Homo sapiens: one gene and its partner. The protein of the gene in region 2 purifies or fractionates together with the protein of the main gene of each other region. This does not show direct contact. Each region holds a gene or a part of one and is shown on either strand. Other genes may lie near its edges. The genes, in order: PKLR and MRAS.

The links.
Region 1: the proteins of MRAS (region 2) and PKLR purify together in Homo sapiens (affinity purification with mass spectrometry; one large-scale study listed by BioGRID and IntAct). This does not show direct contact.

What each region holds. Positions count from the first base shown.
Region 1 is NC_000001.11:155,298,494-155,302,953, forward strand, and holds the start of PKLR (pyruvate kinase PKLR), read right to left. Parts: upstream 2,946-4,460; 5' UTR 2,903-2,945; coding exon 2,803-2,902; intron 2,460-2,802; exon of another isoform or gene 2,395-2,459; coding exon of another isoform or gene 2,388-2,394; intron 1,788-2,387; coding exon 1,605-1,787; intron 1-1,604. UniProt on the Homo sapiens protein: Pyruvate kinase that catalyzes the conversion of phosphoenolpyruvate to pyruvate with the synthesis of ATP, and which plays a key role in glycolysis.
Region 2 is NC_000003.12:138,376,063-138,379,873, reverse strand, and holds part of MRAS (ras-related protein M-Ras isoform 1 precursor), read right to left. Parts: intron 1-3,811. UniProt on the Homo sapiens protein: Signal transducer in the Ras-MAPK signaling pathway that regulates cell proliferation and survival. Core component of the SHOC2-MRAS-PP1c (SMP) holophosphatase complex that regulates the MAPK pathway activation.

The DNA of each region.
Region 1 (4,460 bases), on a different chromosome or scaffold from region 2:
AATTTTTTGTATTTTTAGTAGAGACGGGGTTTCTCCATGTTGAGGCTGGTCTCGAACTCCTGACCTCAGGTGATCCGCCCGCCTCGGCCTCCCAAAGTGCTGGGATTACAGGCGTGAGCCACCGCGCCCAGCTTTTTTTTCTTTTTTTAAAAACAAACAAACAAACAAACAGAGTTTCGCTCTTGTTGCCCAAACTGGAGTGCAATGGCGTGATCTTGGCTCACTGCAATCTCTGTCTCCCGGGTTCAAGCGATTCCCCTGCCTCAGCCTCCCGAGTAGCTGGGATTATAGGCACATGCCACCATGCCTGGCTAATTTTTTGTATTTTTAGTAGAAACAGAGTTTCACCACATTAGCCAGGCTGGTCTCGGACCCCTGACCTCAGGTGATCCACCTGCCTCAGCCTCCCAAAGTGCTGGGATTATAGGCAAGAGCCACCATGCCCGGCCAACTTTCACTCCTTTCTTTCTTTCTTTCTTTCTTTCTTTCTTTCTTTCTTTCTTTCTTTCTTTCTTTCTTTCTTTCTTTCTTTCTTTCTTTCTCTTTCTTTCTTTCTTTCCTTCCTTCCTTCCTTCCTTCTTTCTTTTCTTTCTTTCTTTCTTGCCTGCTTGCTTTCTTTCCTTCCTTCCTTCCCTCCCTCCCTCCCTCCTTCCTTCCTTCCTTCTTTCTCTCTCTCTTTCTTTCTTTCTTTCCTTCTTTCTTTCTTTCTCTCTTTCTCTCTAGGGTCTCGTCTGTCACCTAGGCTGGAGTACAGTGGCTCGATCATGACTCACTGCAGCCGTGACCTCCTGGGCTTAAGTGATCCTCCCACCTCAGCCTCCTGAGTAGCTGGGACTACAGGCATGCACCACCACACTCAACTAAGTTTTGTATTTTTTGTAGAGATGGGTTTTGCCATTTACCCAGACTGGTCTCAAACTCCTGGGCTCAAGCGATCTGCCAACCTTGGCCTCCTAAAGTGCTGGGATTACAGGCATGAGCCACTGAGCCCAGCCCACTTTTTTTTTTTTTTTTTTTTTTTTTTTTTTGTGAGATGGAGTTTTTCTCCTGTTGCCCAGGCTGGAATGCAATGGTGTGATCTCGGCTCACCACAGTCTCCGCCTCCTGGGTTCAAGCGATTCTCCTGCCTCAGCCTCCTGAGTAGCTGGGATTGCAGGCACGCACCACCATGCCCGGCTAATTTTGTATTTTTAGTAGAGACGGGGTTTCTCCATGTTGGTCAGGCTAGTCTCGAACTCCTGACCTCAAGTGATCTGCCCACCTGGGCCTCCCAACATGCTGCGATTACAGGCATGAGCCACCATGCCCGGCCTCACTTTCTAACGGAATAAATAATTTACTTATTTTAAATAATTTATTGTGCTTACTATTTATTGTCATACTCAGCTAGACTGTCAGCTCCCCAAGGGTAGGGATTTTTGTCTGTTTTTTTCACTGATCTACTCCCAGGGCCCAAAATCTTGTCTACTATATGCTCAACAAATTTTTGTTAAATGAATGACTGTGTCAAACATGGAGAAGTCTCAAAGGAGACAAAAGATGAAGAAGCACCTCAAGAAATACCAATAGGCCCTGTGTGGCTGCAGGGGGATGGGAGTGCTTACCGATGGTGGCAATGATGCTGGTACTGCGAGCAGCCACGGGCTCGGAGTCAATGTCCAGTAGGCAGAGGTGTTCCAGGAAGGTGTCTGCCATAGCAGCTGGCAGCTGCTGCTGCTGGAAGAAGGCAGTGCCCAGCTCCTGGGTCAGTTGGGCCACACTGGCCCGCCGCAGATACCCCGCTGGCCCTGTGGTAGAAGGGGGCTCAGGGACTGCATGTCACCTGCCCTTCCTCCCCATGCCTTCGTCTCTCAGCATACCCTCTGTTCCTTCCCTTCTTATGAGCTGGGCATCATGCATATATTATTTTATTATGTCACAAGGATCCTATAAAGCAGGTACTGTTAAATGTTCTATAATTATCCAATTTTATGGATAAAGAAACAGAGGCTGAGAAACAGGAAATAAATGGTCCAATATTATACAGCTTCTAAGTATGGATCAGCTAGGATTCAAATCTAGGTCTGACTAACTCTAGCCCAAGTTCTTGACCACTCAGTTATACTGACCCCGCACAACCCAGGACCCCCCGACCTGCAGCTACTGATGACCCTCAACCCCACCACCCCTTGATGTCTAGTCCCCAGCAGCCTCACCCTATGCAGACCCAGAATCACCCAGTTCCTGCTCCAAAGGTCTCTGTTTTCTCCCTTCCAACCCCTGGCTACTGGCTGGCTTCCCCACCCCATCCTCTGAGTCTCCCCAGGCTTCTCAAAGCTGCTACAGACACAGAGGTCCCTGTAGCTTGACCCATCCCAGTTCAGAGGAGCCCCCGATTCCAGCCGCACCTTCCATGCCACTGCACACCTCTCTGGGTCTCCCTCTCTGTGGGTCTGCTCCACACTGTTGGGTTGTCAGAGGCATGAGGCCCAGCTGGGCTGGGGATCAGTTCTGCAGACTGGTTAAAGTGTCACCACTGTCTCCTGTTCCATTGGAAGCCCTGTATGCCAGGGGCCAGAGTCCAGGAACCACGGGAGTGCCCCGTGGCTTACATGCTGTGGCTCTGGCCTGCCTATAGGGCCTGGAAAAGACCCAGGCCAGGGTCCATAATTTAACACACGGGAGGCTCTGAAGAACGTACGTTCCTCTCCAAAACCCACCTAGCCAGTGGCTGATGTGGATCATTTATGCCCTCCACCCTGGCTCCTAGTTTTCACCCTCATTTTCCTCCTATGTTCCATGGCTTCTGTCTCCCCTTCTTACCTCCTGGAGCCCCAATCAGGATGGACTTTGCTAAGTCTCTTTGGGACTTAGAGACCCATGACCGAAGCTGCAGGGATGATATGTTCTCCTGGATCGACATGCTTTCAGTGTGGGCCTGGGGCTGCGGGACCATGGAATGAGAGGGAGAGGATGACAAAACTGCTGGTCTTATCTAAGGGAGACAGAGAAGAGAAAAGGGGCACACCCAGTAGGCCACCCTGTCCCCACAGAATCCCTCCCCCAGAACGGCCTGCTCTCTGCCCTCATCTCCTGGCATTTCCTCTCATCCTTTTTTCCTGATAAATTTTCAATCCATTCATACTATCTGGTCATCCACGTGAATAGATATTTTTTTTTTGGCCAGTCATATGGCCCCATTTTCTTTGTACTTTACTGAAGTTAGCTCTAGTGAATCCAGGGAGCAGGGGCTGTAGGGTGGGGCTGGAGCCTGAAGAAAGACAAAAGGGATCACTGTGATAATATGGTGGGGGGAGGGTTACCCAGTTCTGACCACTTTTTTTCTCTGTCTCAACCAAGAAATGCAGAGTGCCTTCACCACTCTGTAACCTGGCCAGCTGCATGTTTTCGCCTACATGTTTGAACCCAAGATGGTACCTTGAACATTCTCAGACACTGATAAACTTGATTAGGTTGTTGCTGGAAACACTGAAAGATCGACTATTTTGCTAAACTTATAGACTCCTACCCCCAGGGAAATTTTCTTTCCTCCCTCCCTTCCTTCCTTTTTTCTTTTTCTTTTTTCTTTTTTTTCTTTTTTTTTTCACAGAGTCTCACTCTGTCGCCCAGGCTGGAGTGCAGTGGCGCAATCTCAGTTCATTGCAACCTCTGCGATCCTCCTGCCTCAGCCTACCGAGTAGCTGGGATTACAGACGTGCACCACCACACCCAGCTAATTTTGTTTTTCTTTTTTCTTTTCTTTTCTTTTTTTTTTTTTTTTTGAGACTGAGTCTGACTCTGTTGCCCAGGTTGGAGTGCAGTGGCGTGATCTTGGCTCACTGCAACTTCTGCCTCCTGGGTTCAAGCGATTATCCTGTCTCAGCCTCCTGAGTAGCTGGGATTACAGGCATGCACCACCACGCCTGGCTAATTTTTGTATTTTTAGTAGAGACGGGGTTTCACCATGTTGGTCAGGCTGGTCTCGAACTCCTGACCTCAGGTGATCTGCCCGCCACAGCTTCCCAAAGTGCTGGGATTACAGGTGTGAGCCACTGTGCCTGGCCTAATTTTTGTATTTTTAGTAAAGATGGGGTTTCACCATGTTGTCCAGGCTGGTCTCCAACTCCTGGCCTCAAGTATCCACCAGCCTCGGCCTCTCAAACTGGTGGGATTACAGGTGTGAGCCATCATGCCCAGCCTTGTTTTCTTTCTTTTTTTTTTAAAGGGTCTCACTCTGTCACCCTGGCTGGAGTGCACTCGTGTGATCATGGCTCACTGTAGCCTTGACTTCCTGGGCTCCAACGATCCTCCCACCTCAGCCTCCCAAGTAGCCAGTACTACAGGTGTGCACCACCATGCCTGGCTACTTTTTAAATTTTTATTTATTAAAAATATTTTTTTCCTTTCTTTCCACAGGTGCTGACTTTTTATTTTTGTAGAGACTGGTGTCACTCTGTTGCCCAGGTTGGTCTTGAACACCT
Region 2 (3,811 bases):
GCTACCATATGGTCCAGCAATCCTACTGCTGAGTATACACTCAAAGGAAAGGAAATCAGTATATTGAAGTGATACCTGCACTCCCATGTTTATCATAGCGCTAGTCACAATAGCCAAGAGTAAGGAAGCAACCTAAGTGCCTTTCAATGAATGAATGATAAAGAAAATGTAGCATATATACACAATAGAATATTATTCATCCATAACAAAGAATGAGGCTGGGCGCAGTGGCTCATGCCTGTAATGCCAGCACTTTGGGAGGCCGAGGTGGGCAGATCACCTGAGGTCAGGAGTTCGAGACCAACCTAGCCAAGATGGTGAAACCCCATCTCTACTAAAAATACAAAAATTAGCCGAGCGTGTTGGCAGGTGCCTGTAATTTCAGCTACTTGGGAGGCTTAGGCAGGAGAATTGCTTGAACCCGGGAGGGGGAGGTTGCAGTGATCGTGCCACTGAACTCTAGTCTGCCCAACAAGTGTGAGACTCCGTCTCAAAAAAAAAAAAAAAAAAAAAAAAGACATTCTGTCATTTGCAGCAACATGGATGGAACTGGAGGTCATTATGTTAAGTGAAACAAGCCAGGCACAGAAAGACAAATATTGCATGCTCTCACTGATATGTGGGAGCTAAAACAGTGGATTTCATGGAGGTAGAGAGTGGAATGATTGACATCAAAGGCTGGGAAGGGTGTGTGGGTGGGGGGATGAAGAGAAGTTGGTTAATGGGTACAGAAATACAAAGAGAAGGAATAAGTTCTAGTATTTGATAGCACAGTAGGGAAATTATAGTTAACAATAATTCATTGCAAATTTCAAAATAGCTAGAAGAGAAGAATTGTAATGTTCCCAATACAAAGAAAGAATGTTTGAGGTGATGGATATGCTAATTACCTGGATTTGATCATTACCATGCCCTCAAAATATGTATGAATATGATATCAATAAAAGAAAAGGGAGCAAGCAGAATAGTGGTTGCCAGGGACTGAGGAGAGGGGAGAATGGGGAGTCAGTGTTTAATAGGTACAGAGTTTCAGTTGAGGAAGGTGAAAAGGTTCTGGAGATGAATGGCAGGGATGGTTGTAGAACAAAGTGAATGCACTATGCACTTAGAGATGGTTAAGATGGTAACTTTTATGTTATGTACACTTTATCACAATAAAACAAACAAACACAAAACTCTATGGCTCTGCCGAAGGTTTGGGGCTTCCTGATTCATGACAAGAGAGAATTGGGGTGAGGGCAGTCACACAGCTGAAAGCCAAGGTGAGGTGGTGTTCCAAAGTCAGAGACAGGAGGAGAGGGCTGAGAGCATGGAGATGGGACAGCCGAAGCAAACCCCACAGTGGAGAAGCAGGGACCAGACGGGGAGGAAGAGAGGCTCCGAGGGTTGGGCCCTTGACAATATAAAGTGAGATGAGGATCCCGAACCCTTGCAGGAAAGAACTCAGAGCAGGCTTGCTCCAAAGCCTGGGGGTCCCACAGCCACAGGAGAGCCTGGCTGCTGGCCCCTGAGGCCAGCCAGCTCTTGTCTCTTAGGTTCTGGGAGGACACAGGCAATGTGACTTCCTGGAAGAAAACAAGAAACAGGTTTGCAAGAAAGCAGGCAGCCTGTGAGAATAATCAGTGTGGAAGTCACAGAGAAGGCTTCCTTAAGCAGCTTGCAAATCTCTGACGTGAGACTGAGATCACAACCGGAGCACCTGGTTCTCTGAAGGACCCTGGGTGAGGAGTAAGAAGGGCAGAAGAGGTATGATAGTTCAGCCACACCCACTTCTTCCTGGGACTTCAGCTCCCCTTCCCAGAGGCACAAGGATCCACTGTGCTGTGGGGGAGGATTTTCCTACACAACCAGACTGACAGTGGGTAGGAGTCAACAGGTAGCTCAAACTGTTGCTGGTTGTGTGAAACTTTTGCTGTATTTTCTTCAACTATAAAACAGAAATAACAACAGCAACTACCACGATAGCATTTGTAAGGATTCAAAGACAGCAAATGCAATGTGCTTAGCACGGGCCTTCCACACAGTTTCTGCCCATTCAATACCCCGTCATCAAAATTATCATTCTCTTCCTTCTCCTCATCATCGTGCTGCCACGTTTTTATTCTTTCTGAGTTTGGAAGAAGAGAAACTGCAGAGTTGAGATCCCCTGGAGTTCAGTGGGGTACAGGGCAACTGAGGGCACCTCCAGGCTTAGCACCTCCCCGAAGATGGCATGGCCTCAGGGGAGCAGGACCCCTGGGATCCAGATGCCCAGGGAAGTCCTGGCCATCTGAGGGGTGCAGACCACTCCAGAAAAGTTCAGCCCCAGAAAGGTTCAGAGTTACTCACTGCAACCTCCGCCTCCTGGGTTCAGGCAATTCTCCTGCCTCAGGCTCCCGAGTAGCTGAGATGACAGGCGCCACCAGGCCTGGCTAATTTTTTTTGTATTTTTAGTAGAAGCGGGGTTTCACTATGTTGGTCAGGCTGGTCTCAAACTCCTGACCTCGTGATCCACCCACCTCGGCCTCACAAAGTGGTGGGATTACAGGCGTGAGCCACCGCACCCGGCCAAGTCTTCCTTTTCTTAATAGCAGATCTAATGGAGTGGAGAAGCATCTAATCTGGGAATCTGGTGTCTATTCCCGAGGAAGGCCTGGGTGGGCAATGCCCTAAATCGGGCCTGACTCTGGTGGCAGAATTAGAAGCTTAACAAACTCATTCTTCTAAAGTAATGCCATGGAGAGCCCAGGCATTCAGAACACAGGCTTTGCAAATGCACACTTCTAATATAATGCTGCGGCCATGTTTCCCCTCTCCCTGCTGCTCCTGCTATAAATGTTGAGGAAAACATTCAATCTTGAGGAAAACATTTTTCCTCAGAAACCAATTTAACATCCAAAGGTACTCAGGAAAAAGTCAGAGAAGTTTATATGGCTGTAGAGAGAAATACTGATTGAGTTCCAACGATGTACCAGGCATGGTGTTACTTTCTTACATGCATTATGCAATGTGTTTCAGAATGTTCTCTATGGAACATAGTTCAGAATCACGTGCAAAAAATGACCCCTGTGGGAAGCTCTAAGGACAATGTATCCTATCACTACACCTCTAATATGTGTTTGCATGTTAAAAGTTCTTGTAAGTCCTGCAGTGAAGAAACTTGTTTACATTTATTTAACTCAGTATATCCCAAAGTGTGCCATATATTCCAATAGGTGATGCATGAAATGATTTTAGAAAGTGCACAGATGTAAGTTTTAATTTTAATAGTTATATATACTTATTATTGTAATGTGAGTTAGAAAAAAATAATATAGCTAGCACATCAAACCTTTCACTACACATATATTGTTCAAGGTTTATTCTTTCATTTGGTCATTCCACAAATGTTTACTGGGGAGCTACTATGAGCCAAGCAGTATTCTAGATGCTAGGAATAATGCAGTCAGTAAATAAAGTCCCTGCTCTCAGACATTTATATTTTAGTCAGCAGAGACAAAAACACAAACAAAGATAAAATATGTCCAACCATAAAAGGCAGAATAAAGAAGAACAGAGTTGGGCATAGAAATGACTGGGGTGGGGTGGATACTAGTGTCAATGGTTTGGTCAGGGAAGACCTCTTAGATAAAGTGACATTTGAGCTGAGACCTAAATGAAATCAGTGTTTCTGCAGGAACAATGTTCTAGGCAGAGAGAAGACAAAATGCAAAGTCCCAAGATGGGAAGGTGCTTGGTACCTGTTCAAATTGTTCAAAGTCCCAGGGCTGCAGACAAACCCTTGGAGGACGGTGCTTTTTAAAATTGAGATACAATCTACATGCCATAATAT